Linked DNA regions of Homo sapiens: region 2 is linked to region 1. Evidence: fine-mapped expression QTL. Tissue or cell type: whole blood. Region 1 holds a variant in brackets; the other region holds the start of a gene. All regions are shown on one strand. Distances are between the middles of the regions.

The links. PIP is the estimated chance that this variant, and not a neighbour inherited with it, causes the effect.
Region 2: it holds the start of ENTREP3, and the variant in region 1 is fine-mapped to the expression of ENTREP3 in whole blood (INTERVAL, PIP above 0.99).

What each region holds. Positions count from the first base shown.
Region 1 is chr1:155,090,229-155,095,483 of GRCh38, reverse strand. No RefSeq gene overlaps it. Among named protein-coding and RNA genes, the nearest start is that of EFNA3, 14 kb to the right of the region's middle. RefSeq lists an enhancer at 1,352-1,966. The variant A/G (reference allele first, on the strand shown) is at 3,107.
Region 2 is chr1:155,253,281-155,258,280 of GRCh38, reverse strand. It overlaps ENTREP3 (endosomal transmembrane epsin interactor 3), which reads left to right and starts at 2,798. Exons shown (of 12, transcript NM_006589.3): 1 at 2,798-3,628; 2 at 3,825-3,881; 3 at 4,087-4,197; 4 at 4,303-4,422; 5 at 4,549-4,656. The coding sequence starts at 3,404. SCAMP3 (secretory carrier membrane protein 3) reads left to right here. Exons shown (of 9, transcript NM_005698.4): 6 at 624-783; 7 at 895-996; 8 at 1,490-1,607; 9 at 1,862-2,300. The coding sequence ends at 2,008.

The DNA.
Region 1 (5,255 bases):
TGATGGAAACTATAAATCCCTATGTCGAAGAAGCTCAATAAACCCTAAGCAGAAGAAATATGAAGACAACTACACCAAGGGTACATCATAATCTGCCTTAATCACTGCTGAACACCAGTGATAAAGACACAAATCTTAAGAGCTGCCAGAGGAAAAAAACACATTGTGTAAAAAGGAAAAATAGAAGTGATTTCTCGTCAGAAACAATGCAACCCTGAAGACAGTGGAGTAATGTCTTTAAAGTACGAAAAGATAAAAACTGTCAACCTAGAATTCAGTGGAGATATCTTTCAAATAGGAAGATGGAATAAAGATGCATTCAGACATTCCAAAATTGAAAGAATTCATCATCAGTAGACCTGCACTAGAAGAACGGCTTTAAAAAGTCCTTCAAGCAGAAGAAAAATGATACCAGATGGAAATCTCCGTCTACACAAAGGAATGAAGAGAGCTGGAAATGGTAAATATGTGGGTAGATAGAAAAGATATTTTTCTGATTTTAAAATTCTCTTTAAAAGATACTTGAGGGTTTAGAGCAAATCTAATAATGTATTGTGGGGCTTATAGCATGTGTAGAAATAAATCCATGGTGACAATAGCACAAAGGCGGAGAGGTGGGGAATGGGAGGAAGGTGTTTGCGCTGAGTGGTGTGATATTACTTGATGGAGATAGACTATAAGTTAAAGAAGCATTGTGTAATCCTAAAAGAACCACAAAAAAATGTAAGTGTAGTATTATGAACCAATAAAGGAGATAAAATGAAGATCACAAGGGGTGTGCTGGCCACCCCCTTGGCACACAGAACAGTTGGGTGGAGTTCCCCAGCCCAGCAGGGTCCCATAGAGCCTCTGTAGGTGTTTGGGATAGAATGAGTACCGTCAGAAAGAAACTTCCTCTCCTGCCACCTTCTGGCAGTAAATCCAGCCTATTTTTAACTCAGGCCTCTGCTTAAGTGCTTTTGGCTAAAAGAGAATTGCTGCTTCTAAGAATCTCAGGCAGCCACAGTCTCCTCGGCTTCTCTGCTCGCTCCAGCCCTAGAAGGCTCAGGGACTGCTCAGATGTCCCCGGCTTCCCAACCACTTGTCCCAGGAGAGGAGGCTCCCTCAACTCTGGGTGCTCACTGTGGGCACCCACAGACAGGCAGCCCTTCAGCAGGGTGCAGGTGTGAGAGGATCTCTAAGGGATGTCATCTCATGGAGACTGCGGGGATGGTGCCACGGAGTGGTGTGAGGGCAGCCTGGAGCGAACAAACTGCAGAGTGTTGCTCCAGGAGGGTGCACATGTGTACAAAGGCGCCCTGTGTGAAAAGGGCGTGCTCTGTTGTGAGTGTGAATGTTTTTGTGACTGCTTATGCTGTGAAACATAAACACAGCAGCCTCCGTCCTTTTGATCATGCTGCCCCCTCTGCTGGCCTGTCTCCCCTCGTAGTCCCTCCCAGCCAACACCCACACCCTAGCTGGCAAACTGCCAATCATCCCTCAAGCCTCTCATCTCTCCCAAAGTCTTCCCTGACAACTCTGGCCAGAGGCCCAGCCAAATGGCCGCCAGACTCGGGGTTGTATACCCAGGGGTTAGCATGATGCCTGCTGTGTGCTTAGCCTGCAAGGAGGGAGGAAGGCTCTTAAGGCCTCTTTTGGGGGCCGTATTAGGAGGGCACTGAGAATATTTGCTTTTTCCACTGTCAGACCAGGTCCTGCCAGGCCCTGAAGGGCACCCAAGTGACAAGCCTGGGGTCACAGAGGGATGCGAGGGTCACCCTCCATGCCCAGTGTGCTTAATGGTGCAGAGAGGCCAGGCCTGGGGTCTGTGCCCAGAGTGGGCAGTGCTGGTGTCCAGGTGGTCAGATATGGGCATGGCCCCACGTGGAGTTGGACAGCCTCTGTTGATTTCTCCTCAGGGCTCTCCCTGGAGGCTCAAGGTCTGGCATCTGTGTATGTGTGTGTGTGTGTGTGTGTGTGTGTGTGTGTGTGTGTGTGTGTGCAGGCATGTCTGTGGTGTGGGAAGAGGGCTTTCTCCTGTCTCAAGCTTAGCTCTTACTCTTCCCAGCCCCCTCTGCTCCCCACCATTGTCTTCTCCTTCACCAGCACAAGGCAGGAGTGGGTAGGAGGTTCCCAAGGTCCCTGGGAAGAATGTGGTGGGCACTGCGTGTGATGTTGGGTGTGGGCACGTATCTGTGGGTGCACATATGGATGTGATTGAGAAGCCCCTGCCTCTCCTTGTGTTTGTGTATGTGTCTGGGTATATCCTTGGGGTCCTAGAGGTTGTTTTTGTGTCTCCTGTGGCTGTTGAAATGACCTATCGGTTTCCAGAGGGTGTGAATGTGGCTCTGATCTACCCCCTCCCACCTCCTCCCTCTTCTGATTTTCTTGACTCTAGGGTTTGCCCAGTTGGCTTGGCTGGGATTGTCATTGGGTCCGTGTTAGAGAATTGTATCATCTGTTGAATGCCAGCCCTCAAGTGTGTCACCGTATGTGACCCTGGATGCAAGCGCGGCTCAGGGTACCTGGGAGCCCCTTGCCCTGTGTGGGGTCTGGTGCCTGCGTGAGTGTGTTATAGACAGTGGGGCGTTAGTATGTGCCTAATACCCATGAATGGCTTGAGTGTGACGGCCGCAAAACGGGTCGAATGTGCACACATGGATGTGTGTGCAAGTGATGGATGAGTGTGTGTGCGTGTTCCCTCCTGTGGGTGCCTGGACTGGTCCCTCAGTCCCGTGGGGGGCCTCTCCCACTTCAGTGGTGTGAACAAAGCCCCTGCTTTCCTCCCTGCTTTGCCCCCCAGCCCCCTCTCCCTCAGCACCGAGTTTGATTGACTGTGTGTGGTTGCAAGGTTATGAGATTATATGATTGGTGTATGGCATATGAAGTGTATGCCATTGAATGTGAAACTCTAGTATCCCCTGGCCAATGCCAGCCTCTCAGAGGCAGGCTGGTGGACCTCCGGTCAGTTGAACCTAGCTCTCCCAGGTTCCTAGGCTGGCCCATCCATCCTTTTATAGCCAGGCTTGGCCCCTGTAATTACCTGGGGCCAGATGCTGTGGCGAAGGCCAAGAGTTTGGTGCTAACACTCTGGGGAGGAGTCATATCTGCCCCTCCCCCAGGCCAC[A/G]CCGGAGGAGACTGGAGGAGGCCAGACCTCTTTGGAGTCAGATCACAGGCCACATCACTAGGTTCAGCCTGAAGCTGCTCTGCTGCTCTGGGCCCAGTGTGTCTCTGGCTGACCTGGCCCCAGCACATCTGGGCTATCCCATCCGCGTCACACTTCCCCAGACTGTCGTCCACAGGCTGCAGACACCGAGCCTGTGTTCCCATCACCTCCCACCTGGACCCCTCTTGCCAGTCCATGCCCCCAACCCAGCTCATGCCCCTCGTTCCCCCCCTCCATATCCTCCCGCCCCCCTCATCCTAGTCCTTGTCTCCTGGTCCCAGCTTGTGTCCTTCATTCCAATCCATGGCCCCCCAGCCCCGTCACCACCACCTCCAGTCCACGCCTCTGTCCCTGCCACGTACCTCCAGCCCAGTCTGTATCCCTGGTTTGCCAGCTGGACGGAACATGGAGGTTGAGAGAGAATGGCGAGATTTGCGTGCCGAGTAGGTCTGGGCTGGACGGCTGTGGACTGAGCCCAAGTCCACTCCCAACCCCATGGCATCTACAACTAGGGGAGGAAAAGAAGAGAGTGGGGATAAGAGAAATGGACGGAGAGTGGGCTGGGCCTTAGCCCACCCTGCCCCAGGCCTGAGAACAGAGGGTCCTACGGCGCAGCTGCTTGAGTCCCCTCAAGGACCAACACCCGCTCCACCGACCGCAAACCCATCCCAAGCTCCCCTCACAGCTCCGGCGAGTCCCAGCCCAGGTGCTGCGCCACCTGGTGGATATCGGCAGACTTGCAGGCCCCGAGTGGCAAACCCACGTGGCAGCGAGGCTTAGACCCCAGCCGGGATTGTAAATAGCTCCTTCCCTGCTACCCACAGCGCTGCTGGAGTGACCTCTCACCCCGAAGGGAGGGGCGGGGCAGCTCTGAACTTTACTCTCCAAGCCAAAATCTCTGTTCAGTTGTTTGATGTTGCTGTTGTTTTTCACCCTGGGGAGGACGGGAAGAGGAGGGATGTGTGCGATCTCTACCTGTGTTGGGGGCATTAACCTGTGACAGCCTCTGGGAATGCCAGCGTGTCAGGTGGGAGCCCTCTTTGTGCCTGTGCTGGAGGGGGCCAACATGAGACAACACAAGGGTGAAGAAGACCCTGCCCAGGGTGAGGCTGCTCTGCCCTCAGGCCATACCACTGTGCCTGGTGACATCTTACCACTGCCTTGGCCAGGACGCCCTGGGCTCTGCAGACCTTGGTGTCACAAAGTAGGGCCCTGTACCAGACAGGCTCAGGGTCATTGGTGTCTGGCCATCTAAGTGCAGACCTCTCTCCCCAGTCTTCCTTACATGCTCTGGGATTGAAAGCCTCGCTGGACGGGAAAATCCTCAGCAGGGCTCCGCAGCTTTTAAAACTGATTTCATTTATTTATTATTTATTTAGATATTTATTTTTGAGAGACAGAGTCTCGTTCTGTCGCCCAGGATGGAGTGCAGTGGCTCGATCTCGACCCACTGGAACCTCCGCCTACCAGGTTCAAGCGATTCTCCTGCCTCAGCCTCCTGAGTAGTTGGGATTACAGACATGCACCACATGCCTGGCTAATTTTTGTATTTTTAGTAGATACTGGGTTTCGCCATGTTGTCCAGGATGGTCTCAAACTCCTGACCTCAAATGATCTGCCTGCCTTGGCCTCTCAAGTGCTGGGATTACAAGTGTGAGCCACAGTGCCTGCCAATTTACTTATTTATTTATTTTAAAGACAGGGTCAGCCGGGCGCGGTGGCTCATGCCTGTAATCCCAGCACTTTGGGAGGCTGAGGTGGGCGGATCACCTGAGGTTGGGAGTTCGAGACCAGCTTGACCAACATGGAGAAACCCTGTCTCTACTAAAAATACAAAATTAGCCAGGTGTGGTGGCACATGCCTGTAATCCCAGCTACTCGGGAGGCTGAGGCAGGAGAATCACTTGAACTCAGGAGGTGGAGGTTGCGGTGAGATGAGATCACACCATTGCACTCCAGTCTGGGCAACAAGAGCAAAACTCCACCTCAAAAAAAAGAGTCAGGGTCTTGCTCTTGCTCTGTCGCCCAGGCTGGAGTACAGTGGTGTGATCATAGCACATTGCAGCCTTGCTCTCCTGGGCTCAAGCAATTCTCCCGTCTCAGCCTCCTG
Region 2 (5,000 bases), 160 kb before region 1:
TTGGGAGGCCCAGGTGGGCAGAACATGAGGTTAGGAGATCAAGACCATCCTGGCTAACACGGTGAAACCCCGTCTCTACTACAAATACAAAAAATTAGCCGGGCGTGGTGGCGGGTGCCTGTAGTCCCAGCTACTTAGGAGGCTGAGGTAGGAGAATGGGCGTGAACCCAGGAGGCAGAGCTTGCAGTGAGCCGAGATCCTGCCACTGCACTCCAGCCTGGGCGACAGAGCGAGATTCCATCTCAAAAAAAAAAAAAGAAAAAAAAAAATTAGCTGGGCGTGGTGGCGGGCGCCTGTAGTCCCAGCTACTCTGGAGGCTGAGGCAGGAGAATGGCGTGAACCGGGGAGGCGGAGCTTGCAGTAAGCTGAGATTGCGCCACTGCACTCCAGCCTGCGCGACAGAGCCAGACTCCGTCTCAAAAAAAAAAATGTCTTTGCAAGGGGATCACACATTATTGACATTTGCTTTCTCCATCTCCCCTGTTGAGGATTCCATGAAGGCAGCAGCTGCCTTCATTTCCTTACTCTGCCATGTTTGGTGAATATTATAGGATGAGCATAGATGGGAAGGAGCCTTCATTGCAGTCCAGAAGGGCTCCTCATCCTGTCCCTCTGCCCCTTAGGCAGCACGCTGGCTCTTCTCCTGAACTTCCTCGCCTGCCTGGCCAGCTTCTGTGTGGAAACCAACAATGGCGCAGGCTTTGGGCTTTCTATCCTCTGGGTCCTCCTTTTCACTCCCTGCTCCTTTGTCTGCTGGTACCGCCCCATGTATAAGGCTTTCCGGTAAGTGTGTTAGTGGTGGGAGAGTGATGGAGACCTGGGATGGGCCCCACGTCTGCCCATCCTTCAGCTCTAATTCTTCTCCCACCCTCCCCATTTTTTTCCTCTTTGTAGGAGTGACAGTTCATTCAATTTCTTCGTTTTCTTCTTCATTTTCTTCGTCCAGGATGTGCTCTTTGTCCTCCAGGCCATTGGTATCCCAGGTTGGGGATTCAGGTTTGTGAGGCTGTTATCCACCCTCACCTTTCCCTCTAGATCCAGCCAGCACTGGGTGCTGGGATAGGAGTTGTTCAGAAAAAGGAAATGTGGTTTTAATCCTTGGGAGGTACTAGTTTAATGAGATACAAGACATACTTCCAGGATAGAGCGCAGACAGCACTCTTGACACATATAGATTGAAGGGAAGAATGCTGCATTTGGCCAATCTAAGGTGGCTTCCTGGAGGAGGCATAGAACCATGGTTGAAAGGAGGAAGAAGAATCCCCAGATGAGTGCCTGGAAGAGCTTGGAGAGCTCAGGGCTAATGGTTCAGAAACTGGAATTAAACTATGAAGAGATTAGATACAGTTTGGGATTGTGGTGCTTGGAATGCTGCTCGATTGACAGGGAGCCACTGCTGATGGGAAGGGTAGGAACAGGGGATGCTGGTGACATAACCAGTGGAGAAGCTGAGGAGCCCCTCTTCACTGGTACATCCTTCCCTTTACAGTGGCTGGATCTCTGCTCTGGTGGTGCCGAAGGGCAACACAGCAGTATCCGTGCTCATGCTGCTGGTCGCCCTGCTCTTCACTGGCATTGCTGTGCTAGGAATTGTCATGCTGAAACGGGTGAGGGCTGTGTCGAAGGTGGGGCCGGGATGGTGAGATCATGGGTCCCCAGGGGCGTGGGTGGAACATTCAGGAGCAACTGGCACAGGTCAGGCTGCTGGGTTGTTCTCAGCTAATGGACCTCTGGGGTGTGTGTTTCTGTGTGTGAGTGTGTGTGCTGGGCAGCAGGCTGCTGAGTGGTAGTGATGCTGTTAGGCTGGGGTGGGGAACCAGTGGCTGGAATGGGCGGTAATGTCTTTGTCCTCTACTTGCAGATCCACTCCTTATACCGCCGCACAGGTGCCAGCTTTCAGAAGGCCCAGCAAGAATTTGCTGCTGGTGTCTTCTCCAACCCTGCGGTGCGAACCGCAGCTGCCAATGCAGCCGCTGGGGCTGCTGAAAATGCCTTCCGGGCCCCGTGACCCCTGACTGGGATGCCCTGGCCCTGCTACTTGAGGGAGCTGACTTAGCTCCCGTCCCTAAGGTCTCTGGGACTTGGAGAGACATCACTAACTGATGGCTCCTCCGTAGTGCTCCCAATCCTATGGCCATGACTGCTGAACCTGACAGGCGTGTGGGGAGTTCACTGTGACCTAGTCCCCCCATCAGGCCACACTGCTGCCACCTCTCACACGCCCCAACCCAGCTTCCCTCTGCTGTGCCACGGCTGTTGCTTCGGTTATTTAAATAAAAAGAAAGTGGAACTGGAACTGACATCCCCGTTTCCTGAATCTTCATTGGGAATTAGGCCTTATGAAAGAGAAAGGAGAGTGTGGAGTGAGGTGGGAAGGTCGGACCCGGCTTTAGTGTAAACTGGGAGATATGAGGGGCGGGGCGGTGGAGCCCGAGTGGCTGGCGCAGGAAGGAGGTGGGAAGTCCACGGAAACGCGAAACCCGGAGACGCCAGGGAGCCCTGCTCCCCACCCCTCTCCATTAATGACGGGGAAGAGCCACCGCCTCTGCCGGGAACGCCAAGGAATACGCGGGCCTGGAGCCTGAAAAGCTGGATGGGGCTCAAGTGGAGGCCCAAAGGATCACTAGCAGCCTAGCCAGGGTCCAGAGCGAGGCAGGGACTGGAGGAGCGCTTATCCGACTGCCTCGCCCTGCCGCGGGATCCCCCAACCCCGACAGGGTCTCAGTCCCGAACTACAACTCCCGGGGTGCACCGCGCCGGCCCTCGCCGCCATGCCCCTCCTTCCCGCACCATCCCCATTCCCATCCCCCTTCTCTAGTCCCCGACCTGCGGCAGCCGGAGCTCGGGGAGCGGAGCGTGGTGGGGAGGGGAGCGGGACAGGCGACACAGGAGACAGCGGCGCCGCGGCCTCTCCCCACCAGGCGGCCCCGGATCCTACTGGACGCCCTGAGGGCACACCGACCGCGCCTCTAGAGTCACCCCACGCCGACCCCTCCCCTCTTCTCTAGACTTATTTCCATCCTTCCCGCTTTTACCCTCCCCACCCCTCCCTGGGCTCCAGGCCGCCGCCCCCTCCTCACTCCTGGACCGGCCCTTCTCGGTGCCCCTCTTCCCTAGGGAGATGCGATGAGCCGGTGCCCCCGCGTCCTCATCGTCGCCCCGGGCACGGTGCCCGTCCAGTGCCCGTGGTGGGGAGGGAGCACTCCGCGGTCCCTCCGTGACGCCCCTCGCTTGGCCCCCCCCACAGCTGGCGTCCCTCGGCCATGCCCCAGGGGACCCAGCCAGGGGGTGGGCTCTAGAGCGAGTGGGGTGGAGAGGAGAAAGGACGGGGCCTTGGGCGCCTCTGAGATGCTCCCAAGTGCCAGGGAGGGCCGAGCGAGGCGCAGGCAACCGGGCAGCAGGCATGATGCCCTCGCCTAGTGACTCCAGCCGCTCGCTGACCAGCCGGCCCAGCACCAGGGGCCTTACCCACCTCCGCCTCCACCGACCCTGGCTGCAGGCCCTGCTTACGCTGGGGCTGGTCCAAGTGCTCCTGGGCATCCTGGTGGTCACCTTCAGCATGGTGGCCTCTTCCGTCACCACCACCGAGAGCATCAAGAGGTCCTGCCCGTCTTGGGCTGGGTTCTCGGTGAGTTGGGTGCACAGTTGTTGGGTGGGGGAGGCTCCTCGGGCCCCACCCTCCACACCAGCTGCAAGTCCACATGCTTGCCTCTCCTCCCTCTCCTGGTCCTCTGCCTCCTTACAGGGCTGGGTGCATCCTGTGGTGAGGGGCTCACTCAGGAGCCTCCCCTGCCAGGCTGAGCCTGTGCCCACTCTGTCCCCAGCTGGCGTTCTCCGGGGTGGTTGGCATTGTGTCCTGGAAGCGGCCATTCACTCTAGTGGTAGGTGCCAGGGTCCAGTGCCCACTGGGAGGCAGGTGCCCAGCACGCAAGGGGAAGCCCATTTATGTCCTCAAGAAGGGAACTGGCTCCCCAGTTGGTGCCAGCCGGGTGGGCACGAAGTGTCTGTGAAGGAGGGGGACTCTGTCCGTGGCAGAGGAGTACTCATGAGGGTCCCAGCCCTGAGTCTGCACCCTGTTTTCCCCAGATCTCCTTCTTCTCCTTGCTTTCGGTGCTCTGTGTCATGCTTAGCATGGCTGGCTCTGTTCTCTCCTGTAAGAATGCTCAACTGGCCCGAGACTTCCAACAGTGCTCTCTGGTGAGATTTGAGGAGGGAGAGCTGGAAAGAACTGGCTGGGGGAGGTGTGCAGGACACCTCAGTTTGTCCTGACTCAGGCTGCCTCACCCTCCCTGCTCCACTCAGGAAGGAAAGGTCTGTGTGTGCTGTCCCTCTGTTCCCCTCCTCCGGCCCTGTCCAGAGTCGGGGCAGGAACTGAAAGTTGCCCCTAACTCCACCTGTGATGAAGCCCGAGGGGCCCTCAAGGTGAGCTTGCACCCTGCAAACATCCTCCTGGTTCTCACTCTTGCCTCCCCTGCTGGGGTACTCACAGGCCCATAATGTGTGGAACTTAGCCGTCTCCTGACTCCTCTCCTCCTTTCCCTTCCCCAGAACCTGCTCTTCAGCGTCTGTGGGCTCACCATTTGTGCCGCTATAATCTGTACACTCTCTGCTATTGTCTGCTGCATCCAAATCTTCTCCCTGGACCTCGTGCATACGGTGAGAAGGGAGCAGGGGCCAGGGCACGCAGGTATGGTGGGGGCAGGGGTGTGTGTGCTGAGACTTGCCTGAGGGAACAATGGCTACAGATCTGGCTTTTGAGCACCAGGGGCTATGGGTTATCTATTATCCTCATCTATTGGAGGAATGGATGTTTAGTGGGGAGGATGAGAAGGGGAGATGGCAGGGAGTGAGTTAAGTATGTGATGCTGGTCTGGGACCAGGAGAGGGTGCTTTAGAGAATGGGACTGGATGGTGGGGTAGAGTCAAGAAGGTCCTATGCTGGGCACGGTGGCTCATTCCTGTAATCCCAGCACTTTGAGAGGCCCAGGCAGGCGGATCAC